Regions from separate parts of the Homo sapiens genome. Here regions 2 and 3 are each linked to region 1. The links come from fine-mapping of genetic effects on plasma protein levels. A gene starts in region 1. Each other region holds a variant in brackets. All regions are shown on one strand. Distances are between the middles of the regions.

Region 1 (8,285 bases):
ACAATAGAAAATAAAATACAGTAGTCCCCTTGTTATCCTTGGGGGATACATTCCAAGACTCCCAGCAGAGTACTGAAGGAGAAAATTGTGATCCACAGTTTTTCTACACAGCTAAGTAGTAATTCACACATGAAGGCAAAAGGAAGAGTTTAGTCTTGTTTTATGTAAATTTGAATTATGTCTATTTTCTATTTAAAATAGTATAATGTAAAAATATGTTTAATAATTTCCAGGGTCTTTTTAAAAAAATTAAGAATCCCTATTTAAGAAATTGTCTTACACCAAAGCTATATGACAACACTTTAGCTAGTAAGCAGAAATATTCACTATTGTTTGTCTATATTATTTGAACTATGCTATTGCATTCATGCACTTTCTGTAAGTGATTTTTATGATTAGTATGCTATTTTTATATTCATGGTTATTATAATTTAAAATATTTTTATATGCTATAACAATGTCAACTCATCTTTTATTAAGTGGTTGTGTTTGTGTTAATGCTGAAAAACAGCTGAAAACAAGCTAGATGTGGTATGCCAATTCAGGAAAGGACACTGATAATAATAATAGCAGTTAATACATTTTGAGTGCTACATATTTTTCTAAATGATTAATATGCATTACCTCTTTTAATACCTAGTTTATAACAGCCCTATGAAAAAGGGGTCTGAGACCAGCCTGGCCAACATGGTAAAACCCCATCTCTACTAAAAATACAAAAATTGGCTGGGCGTGGTAACACATGCCTGTAATCCCAGCTACTTGGGAGGCTGAGGCAAGAAAATCGCTTGAACCCAGGAGGCGGAGGTTGCAGTAAGCCGAGATCATGCCACTGCACTCCAGCCTGGGTGGCACAGAGAGACTCCATCTCAAAAAAAAAAAAAAGTACTATTATTATCCCCAGTCTATAGATGAGAAAATAGCCTCAAAAAGTTGAGGTAACTTGTTCATAAATAACTGAATGTGGGCTGGGCACAGTGGCTCACGCCTGTAATCCCAGCACTTTGGGAGGCCAAGGCGGCAGGATCACCTGAGGTTAGGAGTTCAAGACCAGCTTGGCCAACATGGCTAAACACCATCTCTACTAAAACTATAAAAATTAGCCAGGCATGGAGGCACGCACCTGTAATCCCAGCTACTTGGGAGGCTGAGGCAGGCGAATCACTTGAATCCAGGAGGCAGAGGCTGTGGTGAGTCGAGATCACACCACTGCACTCCAGCCTGGGCTACAGAGCAAGAATCCATCTCAAAGATAAATAAATAAATAAATAAATAAATAAATAAATAAATAATCAAGGGTGGATTTGAACACAGGCTGACTCTAGAGCCTTCCCTATTAACAACTATGCTCTACTGTGTTTCTAATGCTGAGAAAATGAAAAGCAACATTAAAAAATAATAACAGATAAGGATTTATGAGCTCCAAGAACACATTCCTTTTACTTTACCCATATTCCTGAGGGAAAATTAGTCTTTCTTTACATATGTTAAATGAATTAATGGAAAAGAAGGAAAGAATATTCCAGCTACTTGGAAATTAATTAAAATACAGTAGCCCCCTCACCTTATCCTTGGGGGATATGTTCCAAGACCCCCAATGAGTGCCTGAAACTGCAGATAGTACTGAGCCCTGTATATATTGTATTTTTTCCTGTACATATATACCTATAAAAAAGTTTGATTTATAAATTAGCCACAGTAAGAGCATCAACATTAATATATAGAATAATTACAACAATATTCTGTAATAAAAGTTAAGTGACTGTGTAGTCTCTCTCTCTTCAAATATCTTATTGTACTATACTCACTCTTCTAGTGATGCTGTGAAATGATAAAATGTCTATGTGATGGGATGAAGTGATGGAGCAAGATGATGTGAGATTTCATCATGCTACTCAGAAAAGTGCACAATTTAAAACTTATGAATTATTTCTAGAATTTCTCATTTAATGGGGGACTACTGTAAAGACTTTCAAAGGTTTTAAAGACTAGTCATGGTTGTTAAAGAATTTAAATGCAGGATTATATCTAAATAAATATATAATTTCAAGATAAAATGCAAATGATAATTCTCAAAAAAAGAAGTTGAATAAGATAAAATAATAATCTAAAAGTAATAAACTGGCTATAAATTCCCCGATTATACCAACTTTTATTGGTAAAACTAGGAAATAGGAGAAAATTCTTGAAAGAAAGTTACAGTGATTTTCTCATGTTACAAAGACAGGAGCTAAAAAAATATTATTGATGGTTGATGTAAATAATTAGAAAAATTCAGGTAAAAATCTTTTTAAAGAATTTTAAGAATTAATATCAAAATGTAAAACAATGTATTCCTTTCAAATTACTTAAGGAAGGCCAAGCACCGTGGCTCATCCCAGTAATCCTAGCACTTTGGGAGACCAAGGCAGGAGGATTGCTTGAGGCCTGGAGTTCATGGCTGCAGTGAGCTATGATTGTGCCACTCGACTCCAGAATGGTGACAGAGTGAGACCCATCTCATTAAAAAAAACAAAAATGGCTTCAAAAAGTTAAATAAAATATATTTAAAGTTAGAAAGAAATCAAAGAAAACATAAAGAATCAGCAAGGAAGCATTTTAAAAATTACAGATTACCAGTTATACAGTAAATATATTTTATTAAGCTTACCCATTAGAAAGCTCCTTTGATATGATTTTCTTAAACATCTACAAGTGACACACTTAAAACAAAGATTTAGGAAGCTTAAGAGGAAAAGATAAAGACAAAAAAATAGGAATTACATCAAAGTAGAATCTCAGAGGTAAAACTATCACATGAGCAAAGAGGATCACTTTTTTTTATGATCCCTAATACAACTCATACAACTTCATGTACTAAGTAACAGTGCTAAAATATATATAAAGTAGCTTTCCACCATGGCCACCATTGGAGGGCAGCAGCCATGACACTGCACTACCCTATAGCTGTGGGCCTCAACAAGGGCCACAAGGTGACCAAGAATGTGAGCAAGCCCAGGCACAGCCACTGTGGGCGCCTGACCAAACTCACTAAATTTGTGTGGGACATGATCCCAGAGGTGTGTGGCTTCACCCCTAACGAGTGGCGTGGCATGGAGTTACTGAAGGTCTCCAAGGTCAAACAGGCCCTCAAATTCATCAAGAAAAGGGTAGGGACAAACATCTGCACCAAGAGAAGGCAGGAGGAGCTGAGCAACGTCCTGGCTGCCATGAGGAAAGCAGCTGCCAAGAAGGACTGAGCCCCCTGCCATCTGCCTATAATGAAAGCTTTGCAGAATAAAATAAATATAAAATAAAGTAATAAAATTAAATTAAATTTAAAAATAAAATAAAGCAAAACAAAATAAAATATATAAAGTAAAAATTGTTGAAAATGCAAAACAATATGGACATAAATACAGAAACACAGGGAAACTTCTTTAGGCACTCATTTACAGGTAAAAATATGAAATTGAATAAAGGTCATCTGGTGTCAAATAATATAGGCCTTATCTATTATAAGAGTTTGGACTGAAAAGCAAAAGTGAGATAATAAAAAAAAGCTTTTCAGAATATTATTTTGTATAGATATGTGAAGGATGAAGGGTGGGTGAAAGGACCAAAAACAGAAACACAGTCTTCCTGAATGAATGACAATCAGAATTCCGCTGCCCAAAGTAGTCCGACAATTAAATGGATTTCTAGGAAAAGCTACCTTAAGAAGGCTGGTTACCATCTGGGTTTTCACAGTGCTTTCACATTCTTATCACTTTCAACACTACTGCAAATAGGAAGGGACAGTAACATTTAGAAGAGAACAAAACAGAAACTCTTGGAAGCAGGAAAGGTGCATGACTCAAAGAGGGAAATTCCTGTGCCATAAAAGGATTGCTGGTGTATAAAATGCTCTATATATGCCAATTATCAATTTCCTTTCATGTTCAGCATTTCTACTCCTTCCAAGAAGAGCAGCAAAGCTGAAGTAGCAGCAGCAGCACCAGCAGCAACAGCAAAAAACAAACATGAGTGTGAAGGGCATGGCTATAGCCTTGGCTGTGATATTGTGTGCTACAGTTGTTCAAGGTATGCAGTAATTTTTATTTCTCAACCTATAAGTTCCTTTTCTAATGTTTCAAATGTCTTTTCTTCCACTTTTATCCTAAAAGACATGATAAAGTTTTATTTAATCTCACAGATTAGAAGTTACTACAGCTTTAGCACAGAAATGGTGGACATGTTTAAGATACTAGAGATGATTATTGAAACTAGAAATTATGAACTTCATGGAATTTTTGATTTGGCTAGAATATCTGGCAAAAGCCTTTAGCAACAGTTTTAAATGTCTGTTAAGAAGATTTTATATAGCGATCATGTTAACAAGCTTCCTGGGAAAATATTTGAGGATAAAATCAAGGGGGCAAAACAAGCTTCACCTCCAATAAACTTCCTTCATGCTTCCCATTTGTTAGCGATTTGCTTACTAATTTAATGAGAAAATAATCAACATCTTACTTAACTTTTCCCAGTAACAGTTGTGTTAAGTGCTATTTGACAAATTACTATCTTTACCCTTAATGAAAATTCTGCTCACGTTCACCACCAGCTATAAACCACAGCCATCTGTTGCAATCAGATGCATTACTAACTAATGCTATGATCTATTCTAGGCTTCCCCATGTTCAAAAGAGGACGCTGTCTTTGCATAGGCCCTGGGGTAAAAGCAGTGAAAGTGGCAGATATTGAGAAAGCCTCCATAATGTACCCAAGTAACAACTGTGACAAAATAGAAGTGATGTAAGTAATGAACTTGCTGAAGATGACAATGGTGCAGGCTTTTTTGTTTATGTATTTGCATCTAAACTTTAAGACTCTTGTATGTTCTTTTAACAGTATTACCCTGAAAGAAAATAAAGGACAACGATGCCTAAATCCCAAATCGAAGCAAGCAAGGCTTATAATCAAAGTAAGTTACCAAATTACTCCCATGTTATAATCTGTTTTATCCAAGACAGATCTTTTGAAAAAGAAAATAATGTGGACAACTACAGAAAGATTCTGCTATGATCCTGTGTGAAATATTCTGTTAAGGGGTCCTTGGTTGTAACAGCTTCCCCTTCTTACTACATGTTTTTAGATGTCCTGGGGGAAACAAGAACAGCCCAAGTAAATAAAACTCTTGTTTTCTTATTCCAGAAAGTTGAAAGAAAGAATTTTTAAAAATATCAAAACATATGAAGTCCTGGAAAAGAGCATCTGAAAAACCTAGAACAAGTTTAACTGTGACTACTGAAATGACAAGAATTCTACAGTAGGAAACTGAGACTTTTCTATGGTTTTGTGACTTTCAACTTTTGTACAGTTATGTGAAGGATGAAAGGTGGGTGAAAGGACCAAAAACAGAAATACAGTCTTCCTGAATGAATGACAATCAGAATTCCACTGCCCAAAGGAGTCCAACAATTAAATGGATTTCTAGGAAAAGCTACCTTAAGAAAGGCTGGTTACCATCGGAGTTTACAAAGTGCTTTCACGTTCTTACTTGTTGCATTATACATTCATGCATTTCTAGGCTAGAGAACCTTCTAGATTTGATGCTTACAACTATTCTGTTGTGACTATGAGAACATTTCTGTCTCTAGAAGTCATCTGTCTGTATTGATCTTTATGCTATATTACTATCTGTGGTTACGGTGGAGACATTGACATTATTACTGGAGTCAAGCCCTTATAAGTCAAAAGCATCTATGTGTCGTAAAACATTCCTCAAACATTTTTTCATGCAAATACACACTTCTTTCCCCAAACATCATGTAGCACATCAATATGTAGGGAGACATTCTTATGCATCATTTGGTTTGTTTTATAACCAATTCATTAAATGTAATTCATAAAATGTACTATGAAAAAAATTATACGCTATGGGATACTGGCAAAAGTGCACATATTTCATAACCAAATTAGTAGCACCAGTCTTAATTTGATGTTTTTCAACTTTTATTCATTGAGATGTTTTGAAGCAATTAGGATATGTGTGTTTACTGTACTTTTTGTTTTGATCCGTTTGTATAAATGATAGCAATATCTTGGACACATCTGAAATACAAAATGTTTTTGTCTACCAAAGAAAAATGTTGAAAAATAAGCAAATGTATACCTAGCAATCACTTTTACTTTTTGTAATTCTGTCTCTTAGAAAAATACATAATCTAATCAATTTCTTTGTTCATGCCTATATACTGTAAAATTTAGGTATACTCAAGACTAGTTTAAAGAATCAAAGTCATTTTTTTCTCTAATAAACTACCACAACCTTTCTTTTTTAAAAAAAGATCTATATACTTTCCAGGACATTTGAGATGCCTTTAACAATTTTGCCTTATATTTCAGAAACATACACCTATCCGTCATCATGAAAAACTGTTTAGAAATATATTTTAATGGGTAGGTGGGAAAGACAGTTGTTTCTTTTGTCGGCCTTGGGGGGTCTTGATAGTCCAAACCCCCTTCTTACTTGGAGAAAATCCCTTATGTGAGTGTTGGTGGGAGGCCAAAAGAGAGAAGCCAAAGACAGGAGATCCTCTCCTGTAGCCACAACAAGGACTCAGCCATGCTGTTTCTACCCTAGACTTTGAACTCCAGCTGGCATCACAAAGATACTATTAGTAAGAAAATTATTTCAAGCCTGGCAGCAGCAGGAGAAACAATGAAAGTCTTACAGTAGTGTCTTCCCAATGTGTGTTCCTGTAGCATGACTCTGGCTAGTCCTTCCTATCACCTAGTTCCCTTAGGTCTTTGTCCATTTTCCAAGACTTATTCTCCATTGTCCTGTGGATTCTTCAACCTCCAACTAAATTCTTTTTCTCCTTAAGATAGCCAGAGTTGGTTTCTCTGCATGTAACCAAAAGCCTTGACTGATAGCAGTACTCTCTATATAGGCACCCATACATTTGAAAAATAAAAATATTTATTATAGGATTATAATCAGATATATCTATATTGCATTATTATATAGGTTATAGATACAATATAGATTTATAATAAATTGTTATATAAATCTATATAAATATCTATATAGAGATGGGACTTCCATATAAATTCCCTGGATAGTTTTAAGACCTGAATCTGGCTGGGTGCGATGGCTCACATCTGTAATCCCAGCACTTTGGGAGGCCGAAGCGGGCGGATCACCTGAGGTCAGGAGTTCAAGACCAGCATGGCTAACATGGTGAAACCCCATTTCTACTTAAAATGCAAAAAATTAGCCGAGGCTGCTGGCACGTGCCTGTAATCCCAGCTACTCAGGAAGCTGAGGCAGGAGAATCGCTTGAACCCGGGAGGCAGAGGTTGCAGTGAGCTGAGATCATGCCATTGCATTCCAGCTTGGGCAACAAGAGTGAAACTGCACCTCAAAAAAAAAAAAAAAAAAAAGACTTGAATCTAATCTTTGACTACTTACAGTGATTTTTTTTTTAAGTCTCTTTAAAAATAAAAATTCACATAGTCAGCTGGGCATGGTGGCTCACACCTATAATCTGAGCACTTTGGGAGACCAACATAGGTGAATGGCTTAAGCCCAGGAGTTCAAGACTAGCTTGGGCAACATAGCGAAAATTCATCTCTATAAAAAATAGGAAAATTAGCTGGGTATGGTGGCACATGCCTGTAACCTCAGCTACTTGGGAAGCTGAGGTGGATGGATCACTTGGGTCTGGGAGGTTGAGGCTGCAGTCAGCTGTGATCACACCACTGCACTCCAGCCTGGGCAAAAGCCTGCCTCAAAAAAAAAAAAAATTCACAGAGTTAAGGCTGCATGATAAATTGGTATTTGTAAGAAGTATATTAAATATTATAGGCCAGTACATTATTACTGAGAAGAAAACATACACCTAAAGTTCTTCATAGCAAAATAAATATATGAAATATTAATAATTAACATATTTGAGCCAAGATCCTCCCCACCTTGGTACCTTTGCACATACTATTCTCTCTGCCCATTTCTTCACTAAGCTAATGCCTACTAATTGCTTAGGTCTCAGCTTAAATGACTTTTTCTCCAAGAAGCCTTTGAAACCACCACTTCAGCTTTAACTAGATTAGGTGTCCTATTTATTTATTTCCATAACACTCTCTATTTTTCCATCATACTACTTACTGCAATTGTAATTAATGAATTATTCCTGTGCCTAATATCTGCTCTCTCATAAGTGTAAAAGAAAGCTGCTGTAGCCCAGGCCAACAGTACAGTTTCTGGTGCATATCAGACCCTATTGAATGGCAATATAAACTAAGGGAAAAGGAATTTACAG
Region 2 (8,285 bases), 32 kb before region 1:
ACAGAGTAAGACCCTGTCTCAAAAACAAAAACAAAAACAAAAAAAAATGTTTAGACTTAAATGCAGGATATAATTTGAAGATTGAGGCAATAGGATGTACTGACAAACTAGATGTGGGCTGCAAGAAAAAGAGGGGAGTAAAGAATAGTTCCAAGATTTTTAGCTTGAATAGCTGGAAGGATGGAGTTGTCATTGATTGACATGGAGAAGACCGTGTGTGGAAAAAGTATCCTGGAACTCAAGTGAAGAAAATACTTACAAAAGAAAGGAAAGATCAAATGTGTTAAAAGCTTCTGATAGGTCAAGTAAGATGAGGACTGAGAACTGACCATTGGATTTAGCAATGTGGAGGATATTGAAAGTTTTGTTTAAGAGCAGGTCTGATAGAAGAGTGGAGATGAAAGCCTGGTTAGAATGGCCTAAGAAAGAATGAAAAGAGGAATTGGAGACATTGGAGATGGTTAATATCTTCAACTCTTTCAAGGAGTTTTTCTATAAAGGACATAAAAGGAATGAGGCAGTATAGCTTGATGGTGGGACCAGGGAAAAGGTAAAGAAGAGAGTCCAAGAATTTTTTTTTTTTTTTTGAGATGGAGTCTCGCTCTGTCACACAGGCTGGAGTGCAGTGGCACGATCTCAGCTCACTGCAGCCTCCGCCTCCCTATCTCGGCTCACTGCAGCCTCTGCCTCCCCAGTTCAAGCGATTCTCCTGCCTCAGATTCCAGAGTAGCTGCCCACTACCAAGCCTGGCTAATTTTTGTATTTTTACTAGAGACGGGGTTTCACCATGTTGGCCAGGCTGGTCTTGAATTCTTGGCCTCAAATGATCCGCCTGCCTTGGCCTTCCAAAGTGCTGAGATTATAGGCATGAGCCACTGTGCTTGGTCAGAAATATTTTTAAAGACAGAAAAAAACCAGCATGTTGGATATGATCTAGTAGATAGAGGAAAAAACTAATAATATAGCAAAGAGAGGGTAGAATGATTGGGTCAATCTTCTTGAGTAGGCAAAAGGGGATGAGACATAGCATACAAGCAGATGAGGTGGCCTTAGATAAGAGCAGGAGAGGTTCATCTAATATGAACAGGAGGAAAGGCACAGTATATTGGCAGATGCTGGAAAGAAGTGGGTTGCAATAAAAATTCTTTTCTACTTGCTTCAATTTTCTCAAAAAAGTAGTAACAAAAGATGATGGTTTAAGTGACAGAGACTTGAAGAAATTGGAGAAAGAATGAAATAGTCATCTAGAAAAGGAGAAGAGTGAATGCCTTATGATTGCTGGGCTGCATTAAGGGGCTACCTGAATTTAAAATGAAATCACTTAAGATGGTTGTATTTTTCTCCAGCTACGTTCAGTTCCATGGTAGATGCAGACTAAGCTAAATTGGATTGAATAAAGACTGTAGCTTTTTCAAGCAAGGATAAAATGATTATTTTATTGAATGATTACGGGCAAAAGATCTGAACTGACACTTCACAAAGGAAGATATATAAATGACAAACAAGTAGAAAACGATGTTCAACATTATTAGCATCAGGTAAATGCAAATTAAAACCACTATACATCCACTAGAATGGCTAAAATTAAAGACTAACAACATAAAATGTTGATGAGAATATGGAGCTACTGAAACTTTCATACATTACTGATGGGAATGCAAGATGATACAGCTATTTTTTAAACAATTTGGCAGTTTTCATAAAGTTAAACTTATATATTTACCATATGACCCCGTAATTCTACTTACAGGAATTCATTATACTTAAAAGAACAGGAATTCATTATACTTAAAAGAAATTATTAAAGTGTATGTTCACACCTGTCAAATGTTCACAGCAGGTTGATTCATAATAGTCAAAAGGTAGAAACAACCCAAATGTCATCAACTGGTAAATGGATAAACAAATGAAATAACACTCAGCAATAAAAAGGAACAAATGTCCTCAAAATGTTAAACATAGGGTTACTACATGATCCAGAAATTTCCCCACTCCTAGGCATATATCTTGGGTATATGCCCAAGATCCAGAAATTCCACTCTGAGGCCTACATCTTGGGTATGTTATATGTGCACACAATCACTTGTGCACAAATGTTCATAGCAGTATTATCTATAATATAATATAAATATAAATATATCTATAAATATAATAGTCAAAAAGTGGTCTAGATTTCAGTCCAAATGTCCACCAACTAGTAAATGGATATACAAACTGTGATATACCCACACACTGGAATATTATTCCACAATAAAAAGGAATTAAGGCCGGATGCAGTGGCTCATGCCTGTAATCCCAGGACTTTGGGAGGCCAAGGCAGGCGGATCACTTGAGATCAGGAGTTCGAGACTGGCCTGGCTAACATGGTGAAACCGTGTATCTACTAAAAATACAAAAATTAGCCAAGTGTGGTGGCGCGTGCCTGTAATCCCAGCCATTAGGGAGTCTGAGGCAGGAAAATCGCTTGAACCCGGAAGGTGAAGGTTGCAGTGAGCTGAGATAGTGCCACCGCACTCCAGCCTGGGTGATAGAGACAGACTGTGTCTCAAAAAAAAAAAAAAAAAAAAAGGAATTAAGTACTGATACATTTACATGAAATGTCCAGAGTAGACAGATCTATACAGACAGAAAGTAGATTATTGATTTTTTTAGGGCTGGACGTATAATGGGGAAATGAGGAAGACTGTTAATGCGTACTAGGCTTCTTTTTAGAGTAATGAAAACATTTCATCTCCCCAAAAAAGTCACCACATGTCCTTTGTAGTCAATCTCCTCCCTTCACCCAAGGCTCTGGAAGTCACTGATCTTCTTCCTGTCACCAGTTTTGCCTTTCCCAGCATGACATGTTAACTATTATCATACAGTCAGTATGTAATTTTTTATGACTAACTTCTTAGCATAACACTATGAAATCTATCAATGTTGTTGCATGTATCAGTAGTTCTAAAAATGATTGCAGTGATGGTTGCACAAATCTGTACACACAATAAAAACTATTTAAGCCATGCACAGTGGTTGGAGTAGCTAAAGGAGGATCACTTGAGCCTAGGAGTTCAATGCCACTGGGGCAACACAGTGAGACCTCATTTCTTAAAAACAAAAACAAAAACAAAACCCATACAAGTGAATACTTTACATGAATGAATTTTTTTTCTTTTAAACTTTTATTTTAGGCTCAAGGGTACATGTGTAGGTTTGTTATATAGGTAAACTCGTGTCAGAGGGGTTTGTTGTACCCATTACTTCATCACCCAAGTACTAAGCCTAGTACACAACAGTTATTTTTTTTTTTATCCTCTATCCTCTTCCCCTTCCCACCCTCCACCCTCAAGTAGGCCCCACTGCCTGTTGGTCCCCCCTTTGTGTCCATGTGTTCTCATGATTTGGCTTCCACTTACAAGTGGTAACATGTGATATTTGGTTTTCTGTTCCCGCATGAGTTTGCTAAGGATAATGGCCTCTAGCTTCATCCATGTTCCTGTAGAGGACATAATCTCATTCTTTTTTATGGCTGCATAGTATTACATGGTATATATGTACCACATTTTCTTTATCCAGTCTTCCTTAATGAATGGTATTGTATGTGAATTGTATCTCAATAAACATGCTTTGAAAAAGAATAAACTATTAATACATGCCACAATATGGGCATGAGGGAACACATTTTTTGGGTGATGAAATGTTTTATATCATGATTGTAGTAGATGTTACATGATGATATACATTTGTCAAAAGTCACAGAACTGTACACTTCAAATTTGTGAATTTTATTTACATAAGTCATACCTAAATAAGGCAAATTTTAACAAACAACAACAAAAACTATCTTGCCTACATACTCCCTGAAATTTGTGTACCCCCAGATATATATGTATCCCAATTTGAAGACTACCACAGTAAAGTATCTGTAATGCAATGGCCCATGAATGATGAGGAAAGAGAACTAGGTGAGTCAAAGGAGCCTAGGGTTGTGGTAAGATAAATACAAGGTATTTATATTTTAGAGACTGGATGCCAAGGCACAACATTACAGTGGTGAGTGCAAATTTCTATCAGCCAAAGACCAAGCAGGATCAGATACCTCGGGGAAGGCCAATGACCGCTAGAGGTCAGCACCAGAACAAGATATTTCTTCAATGGCAGGCCACTGCTCTTAGGAAGAAAAAGAACTCTGAATTTAAATATTTATTCAAAGAAAACTTTCAACTTTGAAGTGACTAAATTTTAATTGACAAGATTAAGTGTTTTTACTGTTACCAAATTTTAACTGACAAGATTAGTGTTTTACATGGGGGTTTGTGAACTACGTTGATTTCCAATAAAGAGAAATACATATTCCTTTTTGCACATGATTCCTCACACTATGACATACTGACACTGGGAAAAATTGTAGTTTGTTCTCTGTTCTCTGTTAGTTCTAGCTGTTAGTCTGGTCTCCAGCAATGGTGACATTTAATTGCTAGCTCAGTAATTTAGTGTTTTTTTATAGATTTTGGGAAAATG[TTTGC/C]TAAATTCCCCCATCGTAGCCTCCTGGCATTGGGCATTCTAAAGACAAACAATTTCTATGTCCTTTCACCCTGTTCGGTGGGCCTCCCACAAACTCAAGATGCACTCCTTTGCCCTTGGCGGGCATCTTCTTAAAGAAGATCATAAACTGGTTTGTACCCCAGTTACCTTCCCTAAGCCCAAAGGGAAACCTAGGAATTCTATCATGACAACTTTGATTTTAGAAAACTGGAGAGAATCTTTTGTCCTTTCCCAACTCATTCTGCTACTTTGTTATGTTCAACTTGTTAAATATAATGCTTTTTCTAAGAGACCTTAAAAATTCTCCAGTTTGCCCAAGTGATGGTGGCAGCCACTCCAGTTGGCCTGCCATCATCCCAGCTGTGGCAGGAAGGTGTGGCCAGGGCTGCCTGTTCCACAGAGCAGGCAGGAGCCCTGCCCTCCTGGGCAGGGGTGCAACTGCCCAAACTATGGCAGCAGACTCAGGTATCCCTGCACTCTTGGGGGCCTGGGAAGGCCCCCCTGCCCTCACAAGCTTAAAAGTGCCTGCTCCCACTGCTTGGCTTCTCCCTGCTGTTGGCTCCTGCTCCAATCTTGGAGCAAAGTCAGGCTGAGCCTGGGCGTCATGAGTAGTAGGAGGCAGAGTCCCACGTGGAAGGGGGTGGGTCTCCAGTAAGGTCCTTCTGTCAGGTCAGGGAGGGCCTGAAGGCTGGGGCCCAGGCTGCCAGTTCCACTGACTGGAGTGGACACTGGTGCCTTTTCCAGGCCTGCCCATGACCACCCATGGGCCAACCAGTGTGCACTTCCTCCCCTCTGAGGTCCATAAATAGCCGGGCTCAGCCAGAGCTGAGCAGAAGATGGGATGACCAGCAGCAGAGAGGAGCTACCCTCTCTGCTAATTACGCTCTCTGCTAATAGCTTCAGAGATCTGCAGAGACTGCCGAATGACCTGCCTGCAGAGAAAAGCAGACCTCAGGATGACCAGCGAGCAGAGAGAAGCTGCCATCTCCAGGGCCTCCTCTCTGTTGAGAGCTGAACACTTGACAGACGACCTGCCTGCCCACAGAGGGGAGCTACCCACTGTGGGTCTCCTTCTGAGCAGTTACAGCACTAAATAAATCTCCTCTTCTTCTTCCTCACCCTTCATTTGTCTGCATACCTCATTCTTCCTGGACGCAGGACAAGAAATGGGGCAAAGGCCCCACTGGCAACAGAGGTTTACAGGGGAAGAAAATCAACACCCCAAAGATCCTATAACACAAGGAGAAGTATGAAAAGAAAAAATCTCTGCTGCTAAAAGATTCCCTGAAAATTACTAGGGTGTTTCTAAACCCCTACATCAATGCTTTCTAGGGTTTCAGTCCAGAGGAGCCACAGGAGTCTGAATTCTCTTTTCTCCTTTTCTCTGTTCTAGAATCAGGTCTTCCACTCCCAATTCCTGTTAGGCATTGCTTCCTATGTGCTATTTCTTTCACCTTTATCCTATGTACTTCTTATTCTGGCATTATCAACCTTTTCCTTCCTTCAGACTACTAAGGATAATCTTAAAGGTTACAGAGTACAGACAGACTTTATAAAGGGAATGAAACATATATCTATTTAGTATTTTCAAAATAATGCGTATTATCCCTACACCATTCAATATATAATGATTAGATTGCTTTATTATATTTAATATATTGATGTTATATAATACAACATATTCATATATGTATATATTATTATAATGTAATATTATATTTGTGGACAAATCCTATTGGTAGATTTTAGGCCTCTAGGCTTTAATTCTCAACTTTCTTTCCCCCTATTTCAGTGAGAGAGACACATTCTTATCAAGGACAAGGAGTCTCTATGGTAATGATTTCAACGAGTGTGTGTGTGTGTGTGTGTGTGTGTTGGAGGGTTATATCAGAGTGTGGGAGGTTCAGGAGGTCCTTGAATAAGGCCATTTCATTATACCATTAATGAGAAAAAAACCTGATTCTCAGCCAGGACTACTGTCTATGTGGAGTTTGTACATTCTCCCCATGTCTGTGTGGGTTTCTCCAGGGACTCTGGTTTCCTCCCACATCCCAAAGATCGGCATGTTAAGTGAACAGGTTTGGAAATGAATGAATGAACACCAATTATTGTATAATAAAAATTCCAAAAGTATACAATAATAATACAAATGCACAAGATTAAATGATTCAGTACAAAAGCACTCAGTGAGCTCGCCATATTTGTAATTGTTTGTTTTTGAACTTTGTGGTGTTAAGAAGTGCACCTCACAATTTTTGCTTTGCAAACACTTCCTCCTTGATTGAACTCACCACCACTATGGCTACCATTACTCACGCCTGTGATCCCAGCACTTTGGGAGGCCAAGGTGGGCAGATCACTTGAGCTCAGGAGTTCGAGACCAGCCTGGCCAACATGGTGAAACCTCGTCTCTACTAAAAATACAAAAATTAGCCAGGCATGGTGGCAGGTGCCTGTAATCCCAGCTACTCAGGACGCTGAGGCAGGAGAATCGCTTGAACCTGGAAGGTGGAGGTTGCTGTGACCCATGATCTTGCCACCGCACTCCAGCCTGGGTGACAGAGTGAGACCCTGTCTCAAAAAAAAAAAAAAATTTACTCAATATTCCAACTCCCATCTTTCTACCAACACTGATAATTGAAGCAATATTGTTAGTATATTTTAAAGCATCCACTTTCAATATTCTCTTTTTGGTACTCATTTTGTAATAAGAGGACGTTAGCACTGTTACCCTTCCCTTCACCTCCTTTCTGCCTTTCACCTCCCAGCTTCCATCAGTAGTTCTTTTATCTTTATGTTGTCAAAATGTAATAACATTTGCTTTTTGTTCTGTAGCCATGCTTTAAGTAAAGGTCTATTCTAAAATTAAAAATCAAAAGTATAGTTTACTGCAAGTTTATTGCAACCAGCTATATATTCTTTAGTATAAAGACAAGACACAAGTTAGGATTTTATTTCCATCTCTGCTGTTTCAATGTCATGATCACTATTCACACTCAAAACAAAACATTTTTATGTCAAGATCAAATGAATATTCCTTTCCCATACTCCACTAATCCCTTAAAATCATGCCTCACTTTTGTCTCTTTTGTATTTAGATCACTAAAATTTTTTATTTTTCCTTTAGTTTCTGAGTGCCTTTTTTGGTGGTGATGGTAGTGGTGATCATGGTGGTTGTTGGGAAAAGTAGTATTTGTCTCCATCGTGTACCTAATGTGCTTCTATTTCCAATTCTATTGCTTGGAATCCATTTTGTTCTTATTCTTGAAGACCAGTTCTAACCTGGACAAACTGCTCTCCAGGCCAACAACTAGGAGACTAGAAAATCTTTCAATTGAATCCCTGGGTACTTTTTCCATTTCTTGTACTCTACAGTGGTTTTATTTTTTTAATTTATTTTTTGTCTCATGCTACTGCATCTACAGCTTTTTGCTTCATATTTATCTTTGTTTTGTAGGAATATATTCTGAAATTATTTCCTTAAAAAGGATGCATGGAAGATAAACATTTTCAGTGCTTTCATTTTTGAAATGTGAATCTGATGAACAGTTGGCTAGTATATAATTCTAGGTTCAAAATAATTTTTCCTCAGAACTTTGTATAATACATGAAACTCTAAAAGATTTGTATAAATTCAATGTTTAGTGCCAAAATTATTCTATTTTTCACTATCATTGTTTTAAACTAATTTTCAAGTGCAGGCTTTATATTACTTTTAGCTTTCTTGTTTTTATGTTCTCCGAGTCTCTGTCAAATAA
Region 3 (8,285 bases), 150 kb after region 1:
TTAAAAATACATGATGGGATAAAGGATATTAAAAGATCCTGCACTTCCCAGAGCCCATCTCAATTGAAAGCAAGCCAGCTCCCCACCACACCCTACCAGATAGTCAACCGGGAGGAAGAAAAAAAGAGGGAGAATGAAAGGTGTTGCCCACTTCTGCTGCCTGAGTAGCCAAAGCAAGACTGAGGATGTAATACGTATGTCTCATCATTGGCAGCACTGGCCATAGAATGCTCAGGGCAAGGTGTTAGCAGACAACATTGATGTCCATGATCTTCTTCAGTGGTCCTTAAACTTTAGCACAAGTATGAATTATGTATGGAGCTTGTTAAACCTTCAGATTCCTTCCTGGATTCCAGCGGTAGAGATTCTGATGTTACAGGTCCAGGGTGAGGTGTAGCAACCTGCATGTTTACCAGGAATCTCTAAAGAATCTGTAGCACCAGCCCTGGACCTTTCATTCACTATTCTCTTTTGTGTGTGAGTGTGTGTGTGTGTGTGTGTGTCAGAGTCTCTAGCCCAGGCTAAAGTGCAGTGGTACGATCTCGGCTCACTGCAACCTCTGCCTCCCAGGTTCAAATGATTCTCCTACCTCAGGCTCCCAAGTAGCTGGGATTACAGATGCCTGCCACCATGCCCAGCTAATTTTTGTATTTTTAGTAGAGATGAGGTTTCACCATATTGGCCAGGCTGGTCTTGAACTCCTCACCTCAGGTGATCCACCAGCCTCAGCCTCCCAAAGTGTTAGGATTATAGGTGTGAGCCACCACGCCCAGCCTCATTCACTATTCTGAACATGGTTTTACAGAAGTCAGTCAGTGGGGTTCAACCTCATCGCTTACTATTTAGTGAGTGCCTTTGAGAAATACTAGTAGTATGAATTTTTTTCATAGGAAATCAAATTTATCTTTGTTTAAGTTCCTCCCAGCTTCTCTTTTCCCATGTCACCATCATCTTTCCTCTTAGGGAAATCAGCAAGAATTCTATTATCTGTCTAATGCAAACGAAACATATTAAATCAATCTGTCTACTCTTTATGAGGTTGACCTGAGTCAGCCTGCAGGATTTCTAATCCAGCCTGCAGGATTTCTAATCCAGCTTTATCCACAAATAGTCCATTCATCACCAGCAGTGTATCTAAGCCTTGGAGCTTAAAAAGAATCTAGTTATGTGGACAGCTGTTCCCTTCTCTGGCAACAATACTTGACCACACAGGTCCTAAACCTTATATAAAGAATGAAACTCCACACCCTAACCTGCCCTACCTGGTCACCTAGCACAGGTCCTGGCAAAAATGAGAGGCCCAGTGGCCATGTGGGGGACTGCATGGTCAGTGCTGTCTATCTTATGACGGGGGTGCTTAAAGCCTGTAGGGATATCATGGAACTGGGGATGGCAAGCATGGGAGCTGGGACACAGTTGCTACCCCCTGACATCGTATGATGCATTCATTTGAGTATTCGTTTATTGTTTGCTTTTCCTAGTCTTCATCTGGCCCCGCCCCTTTTCCAGATGAGGACATTGAGGCCCCAGATGACTTGTCTGAAACCACAGAGCTTGTCAGGGCAGTTCTAGGTCTAGATCCCAGGTGTCCTGACATCCAGTCTATTGTCACAATATCAAAATGTCCACCCCACCCCCGCATTATAACCTGTCAGGGATGCTGCATCCTTGCAATCTCATGAGTTTACATCTCCTTCTCGGAATCCTGGCAGTCCAACCTTTTCATCCCTATACAGAAATGTTTTCATCAATACATGGGAATTCTAATCAACCTACAGTGATATGAGTATAACCATCAGGCAGGAATGAAGGGGAGGGGCAGGAAATGGGGAAAAGCACTATTGCCAGCAGAAAGGGAAATACTTCCTATGGGCGTCAATGGGTAGTGCTTCTGCTCCATCTTGTCCTCACATATACAGTGGGAGAGGGCTGAGCAGCTTCCTCTCCCTACCCCCAAACCCCTGGCCCAGGGAGTCCGAGCTCACAGGCTTGCTTCTCCATCGGTGTCATAGCCTTCAAGGCAGCAGCCCTGATCCAGAGATGGTACCGGCGCTACGTGGCCCGCCTGGAGATGAGGCGGCGTTGCACCTGGAGCATCTTCCAGTCTATAGAATATGCTGGGCAGCAAGACCAAGTCAAGGTACAATGAGATGTGGGACGGAGCCGCCTCCTGCTCTCCCTTGGGCAGCAGGGCTCGGGTGCTCCTAAAGTGAGGCCAACTGGACTACTTGTGGGTTCTCTTTTCGCTCACCTCTAAAGCCACGTCTCCTTGGGTTCTTCTGCAGCTCCATGACTTCTTCAGCTATCTCATGGATCACTTCATCCCCAGCAGCCACAACGACAGTGAGTATGAACTGCCACATGTCATGTCCTCCTGTCGCAAGGCCATAGATTACACGGTGAGGTGGGGGATGCACAGGGAGTGAAACCGTGAATCTGGTGACAGCCAGGGAATAAGCAAGGGGCTGAGGAGTAAATGGCAGACTGGGGTTTTATGCCAGGTTCTCCTGAACACACACCTGGAGACAAGAGTTTGGACGCAAGGAATTCATTTATTAAGTTCAAGAAACCCTGGGGGTGGGAGGGAGTGGGGAAGGGATTCAGGAAAGGAATCGCAGCCAGTCCAGCAACTCAGTGTGCCTAGGAAACAGTGCAAAACGCAAGCCTCAGAATTATACCCCCTGCAGGCAAAGGGAACTGGAGTTTTTCTGTGTCAACTCCAGGAGTCATTGGTTGAAAGCGGCTGGGGAGGTGGGAGAGAAGTATAGGAAGGAGGCTTTTTCTTTTCTTTTCTTTTCTTTTTTTTTTTTGAGACAGAGTCTCGTTCTGTGACCCAGGCTGGAGTGCAGTGGCATGATCTTGGCTCACTGCAACCTCTACCTCCCGGGTTCAAGTGATTGAACCTCAGATACCCAAGTAGCTGGGATTACAGGTGTGCACCAACACACCTGGCTGATTTTTTATATGTTTAGTAGAGATGGGCTTTCACCATGTTAACCAGGCTGGTCTTGAACTCCTGGCCTCAAGCGATCCACCTGCCTCGGCCTCCCAAAGTGCTGGCATTACAAGCGTGAACCACTGAGCCAAGCCAGGAGGTTGTTAATTCCATAGCATTTCTGGCCTGCCATCCGGATCCAGGAAATAAGTCCTCAGTCTGGAGATGCCAATGCTGGCAGCTGGAAGCTGCTGGAAGGCACTGCCAGGTCTGATGCACCTGTTGCGCTCACTAAATGCAACATAAATACCTGTGATTTTTCCACACTGGCTTTCCCCTTTCCTTCTGCTTGCAAATCCAGGTCCCTAAATTTCTGTACTCTCTAAGTCTGACAAATCTTGATCTTTTAGAATAAAAGTAGAAAGCATGACTTTTTCCTCCTGCCCATCCTAGACTGTTGTCACTTTCTCCTTCCTTTTTCCTCTTCTGTGCTGGAGCTGAAGCTGAAGCCAGATTAACCATGTCCTGCTTCAATAGTCCAGGGAAGGACTTTTTTTTTTTTTTTTTGAGACAGGGTCTCACTCTATCGTTCAGGCTGGAGTGCAGTAGTATCATCTCTGCTCATTGAAACCTCTGCATCCCAGGCTTATGTGATCCTCCCATCTCAGCCTCTTGAGTAGCTGGAACTACAGGTGTGTGACACCATGGCTGGCTAAATTTTTAAATTTTTTTTGTAGAGGCAAGGTTTCCCTATGTTGCCTAGGCTGTTCTCAAACTCCTGGGCTCAAGCAATCCTCCCTCCTTGGCCCCGCAAATTTCTGGGATTAGAGAGCCACCGTGCCCAGCCAAGGACTATTCTATAGTGCCCACAGACTGCATGATCAGATGATCATAAGCTGATCCACCTTTTCTATCTGGACTAGGGGACTTCCTGACCCGCATATTCACTGAGGACAGATTCGCCCAGGACTCCGAGATGAAGAAATGCAGTGACTATGAATCCATAGAGGTACCCGACAGTTACACGGGGCCACGCCTCTCCTTCCCACTCCTGCCTGACCATGCAACTGCCCTGGTAGAAGCATTCAGACTGAAACAAGTAAGCTCACCTGGGGAACCTGGGTCACTACCAACTCCATGAAATGTGTGAAGGGAGACGAAACCCAGCACAGAAAGAATGGCCCCAGATTTAGGGTGTTCATGTCATGTGTCCACTAGAGAGATTCTACCCCTGCTGTGCTTAGCCAGGACCTTGCAGTCAATCAGCCAGTTCTGATGATTGACAGCTTTTCTTCCTAATCACATAATCTCTCATTGTTCATTCATCCCACACATAACTACTGAGCACTGCTGTGTGCCCCACATTGCTCTGGGCACTGAGGATACAGCAGTGAACAAAACAGATAAAATCTCTGCCCTTATGGGGCTGGCATTCCATCGGGGAGGCAGACAATGAACAATAAATAACAATAAATAAGACAATTATGCAGTATATTAGAAGGCGATGAGAGCTATGGAAAAGAATAAACTAAGTTATGGATGGAAGAAATAGCAATTTTATAGAGTTGTCTGGGAAGGTGATTTCTGAGCAAAGATCTAAGGTGGTGAGGAATGCGCCGGAGAAAGAGCGTTCCAGGTAGAGGGAGGAACACATGGAAAAGCCCTGAAGCAGAAACTTGCCTGGACTGTTCACGAACCTCGGGAGGCCACTGTGGCTGGAGAAGAGGGAGCCAGGGGAAGAGTAATGGAGGTGAGGGGGTGGACTTTTATTCTTCCAAAAGAGACAGGGAGACAGCAGACATAGGAATGACATAATCTGACTTGTTTTTTTGTTTTGTTTTTTTGAGACAGAGTCTC[G/A]CTCTGTCATCCAGGCTGGAGTACAGTGGCGCGATCTCGGCTCACTGCAACATCCGCTTCCTGGGTTCAAGCGACTCTCCTGCCTCACCCTCCTGAGTAACTGCCACTGCAGGCACCCGCCACCACACCCGGCTAATTTTTTTATATTTTTAGTAGAGATGGAGTTTCACCATGTTAGCCAGGATGGTCTCGATCTCCTGACCTCATGATCTGCCTACCTCAGCCTCCCAAAGTGCTGGGATTACAGGCGTGAGCCATCATACCCAGCCCTGACTTGTTTTTTAAAATAATCATTCTGGTTGCTGTGTTAAGACAGTGTAGGCGGCAAGGGCCAAAGTAGGGTGACCAGTCAAGAGACTACTGCAATCGTCCAAGCGAAAGATGACAGTGGCTTGGAACTCTGATGGTAGGGTAGAGGTAGCGAGATAGTCAGCTTCTGGCTCTATATCAGAATTCAATCCTTCCCCTCTTCCACATGAATGTAACTCATTGCAGGAGGAGCTGAGCTGATATATTCCAGTAATGACAGGATCACTAAGTACCATCAACACACCTGCACTTAGTCATACTTTACTGAAACAATCACATGGTCTTCCCATGCTAAAGGCAAGGAAGCATTTAATAGAGTAGAAAGGAAAGAGAAAAGTAGCTCAATATTTGCAGGGGGGGCAAGTGGGAATGATGAGAAGCAGAAACAAGGGCAGAAGTTGAGTGATAAAGAAAGAATCCGTGCATAGTCCCAGGAGCAGTTTACTGGGGTTACTTTTGGGGTCTTAGGTGATGGGGGTTGTTAAGCAGTAAAGGTAAGGACCATTTTCCCTCACGAATATCAGTGTTGTTTTCTTCCTTCCCTCCTCTTCCTCCCAGTAGCAGCTCCATGCTCGCTACGTCTTGAACCTTTTGTATGAAACCAAGAAACATCTGGTACAGCTGCCAAACATCAACCGGGTCTCAACCTGTTACAGTGAGGAGATCACAGTGTGTGGTAAGAGCTGGTCAGAAACGGCTTTCCATGCTGCACACAAAGAAGAATGCTCTACCTGTGTGGGGATGCAAGAGGAGTGGCGGGCTGCAGGGAGATGTGATGATAAGCCAAATTTAACCCCTTCAGGTCCACAATTTGCATATTCACTCCACATTTACCTAAAAAAGAGGTGGTGGTGCAGCGAAGGGGATCATGGACCTCAGGGCCCAGCCTCTGCTTTATTTTCCCAAGCAATTCCTACTGACTCAAACTCATGTTCTTCATTCAAAACAAAATCTCTGCAAATAACCAGACCCTCCTTGTTAGAAGATGGTTTATTTAATGGTACTTGAGAAAGCCCCGATGACTAGCAAATTATTCCTCCCATCCACACACATTCCTCTCCTGGAAAGAAGTCCTGTTAATGACTGTTTTCCCCATCTTATGTTTCCAGTGATTTTTAACATCCACTGTAGACAGACATCCCACACCTTAACCTAGTGGAGGCTCCAGTGCAGGAGGGATTGTAACTGGCCCTGCTAGGGTCACCTGCAGCCTGCAGATGGTCTTGCCTGCCTTGCAATGTTCATAAAGTTTTTTTTTTTTTTTTTTTTGAGACACAGTCCCGCTCTGTCGCCCAGGCTGGAGGGCAGTGGTGCAATCTCGGCTCACTGCAAGCTCCGCCTCCCGGGTTCACACGATTCTCCTGCCTCAGCCTCCCGAGTAGCTGGGACTACAGGCGCCCGCCACCACGCCCGGCTAATTTTTTGTATTTTTAGTAGAGATGGGGTTTCACCGTGTTAGGCGGGATGGTCTTTATCTCCTGACCTCGTGATCCGCCCGTCTCAGCCTCCCAAAGTGCTGGGATTACAGGCGTGAGCCACCCGCCCGGCCCATAAACTTTTAAAAATGGTATTTCAACATTGGAAATTTGGAGGATTTTATATTATGATCTAGATTTTGCTTTAAAAGTCTCCTGAAAAATCTTTTAACACTGGCTCATAAGTGAGTAGCTGCTTTCTAGTTTAACGTGGGCAAAATCTCTCCAGTTCTCATCTAGGTTTGCAACCTTGCACTATTCTATCGCATCTTTGCTTCAATAAAAATGTAGCTCATTTACTATTTATAATAATCCGGCAGAAAAAATATTATGCCTTCTGCTTTCAATACTATCTCTGCAATAAGGAGAAATTAATATTTATCCTTATCTTACATATGGAAAACTTTGTAGGGTTTTTTCTGTCAGATTCTTCTGGGTATTTTCTTTCTTATAATAAAAATCAGAAGCACTGGTAAGGAACAATCAGAATTGATATTCTTTTTCTATCTTTGTTAGGAGACTTACATGGCCAATTGGATGACTTAATCTTTATATTTTATAAGGTATGAATGTTCAAATTAAGTTGCTTTCTTGCTCTGAAGCTTAATTTAGAAGCTCAAATTCAGTATCAATTGAACAAATGCTTAAATATTACTTGAAGTTTTAAAATATTATTATTTATTTTTATTTTTTTGAGATGGGGGTCTCAATCTGCCACCTAGGCTGGAGTGCAGTGGTGCGATCTAGGCTCACTGCAACCTCTGCCTCCCAGGTTCAAGCAATCCTCCCACCTCAGCCTCCCGAGTAGCTGGGACCACTAGTGCATGCCAACATGCCCTAATTTCTTTATTTTTTTCACTTTTTCTTTTTCAAACCCTTGTGTCGAGGGCTGACTTTCAGTAGATCACAGCGAGGGAGCTGCTCTGCTCAGTGCGAAATCCTGACCCAGAAGCAGGTCATCTACGAACAGTTTAATGTCAGGTTCCCCACGAACGTGCCGTTGCATGACGGGTGAGGGGCGGCCGCCTTTCCGGCCGCACCCGGTTTCCCAGGAGGAGGGACTCTCCGCACCGGCCTCGGGTACCTGCGCGCTTGCTGAGCCGAACTGCGGGCCGGCGGGGATGGCAGGAGACTGGCTATCCCAGGCCATTGGGAGACTGGCTATCCGAGGCCAACTGAGGCCCTGCAGCGCTGCCCTGTGGTTCAGCCTGGGCGGGATTCTGACTTAGAGGCATTCAGTCAAAATCCCACAGAGGGTAGCTTTGTCCCATTGGCTCCTTAGCCAAGCACATACACCGAATGTCTGAACCTGCGGGTTGGTACTGAGCAGGATTACCATGGCAACAACAGATCATCAGTAGGGTAAAACTAACCTGTCTCATAATGGCCTAATTTTTTTTTTTTTAAGACAGAGTTTCGCTCTTCTCGCCGAGGCTGGAATGCAATGGCACGATCTCGGCTCACTGCAACCTCCGCGTCCCAGGTTCAAGTGATTCTCCTGCCTCGGCCTCCCAAGTAGCTGGGACTACAGGCGTGCACCACCACGCCCGGCTAATTTTTGTATTTTTAGTAGAGACAGGGTTTCACCATCTTGGCCGGGCTGGTCTCGAACTCCTGACCTCATGATCCACCTGCCTCAGCCTCCCAAAGTGCTGGGATTACCGGTGTGAGCCACCGCGCCTGGCCTACGATGGACTAATTTTTTATAT

Which allele goes with the higher level. Alleles are on the strand shown, and positions count from the first base shown. The strength of an association depends on the size of the effect and on how common the allele is.
For the plasma level of the protein whose gene starts at base 3,919 in region 1, TTTGC is the high allele of the variant in region 2 and C is the other (moderate association).
With allele G in place of A in region 3, the plasma level of the protein whose gene starts at base 3,919 in region 1 is higher (moderate association).

Evidence for each region. PIP is the chance, under the fine-mapping model, that this variant and not a neighbour inherited with it causes the effect. Protein levels are from antibody-based Olink assays in UK Biobank. Linkage for the fine-mapping came from a reference panel and not from the study's own genotypes, which makes the PIPs less certain.
Region 2: its variant is fine-mapped to the plasma level of the CXCL11 protein (UK Biobank, PIP 0.95).
Region 3: its variant is fine-mapped to the plasma level of the CXCL11 protein (UK Biobank, PIP above 0.99).

The regions. Positions count from the first base shown.
Region 1 is chr4:76,031,704-76,039,988 of GRCh38, reverse strand. It overlaps CXCL11 (C-X-C motif chemokine ligand 11), which reads left to right and starts at 3,919. Exons shown (of 4, transcript NM_005409.5): 1 at 3,919-4,062; 2 at 4,647-4,773; 3 at 4,870-4,942; 4 at 5,173-6,307. The coding sequence starts at 4,002. The coding sequence ends at 5,196. It also overlaps a transcript of ART3 not described here and the pseudogene RPL36P8.
Region 2 is chr4:76,063,670-76,071,954 of GRCh38, reverse strand. It overlaps a transcript of ART3 not described here. Among named protein-coding and RNA genes, the nearest start is that of ART3, 6.9 kb to the left of the region's middle. The variant TTTGC/C (reference allele first, on the strand shown) is at 4,504.
Region 3 is chr4:75,885,706-75,893,990 of GRCh38, reverse strand. PPEF2 (protein phosphatase with EF-hand domain 2) reads left to right here. Exons shown (of 17, transcript NM_006239.3): 3 at 2,013-2,140; 4 at 2,286-2,343; 5 at 3,859-4,034; 6 at 5,663-5,777; 7 at 7,093-7,139. LOC105377285 (a long non-coding RNA gene) reads right to left here. Exons shown (of 2, transcript XR_938895.3): 2 at 5,527-5,748. Among named protein-coding and RNA genes, the nearest start is that of PPEF2, 13 kb to the left of the region's middle. RefSeq lists a silencer at 7,721-8,015. The variant G/A (reference allele first, on the strand shown) is at 4,793.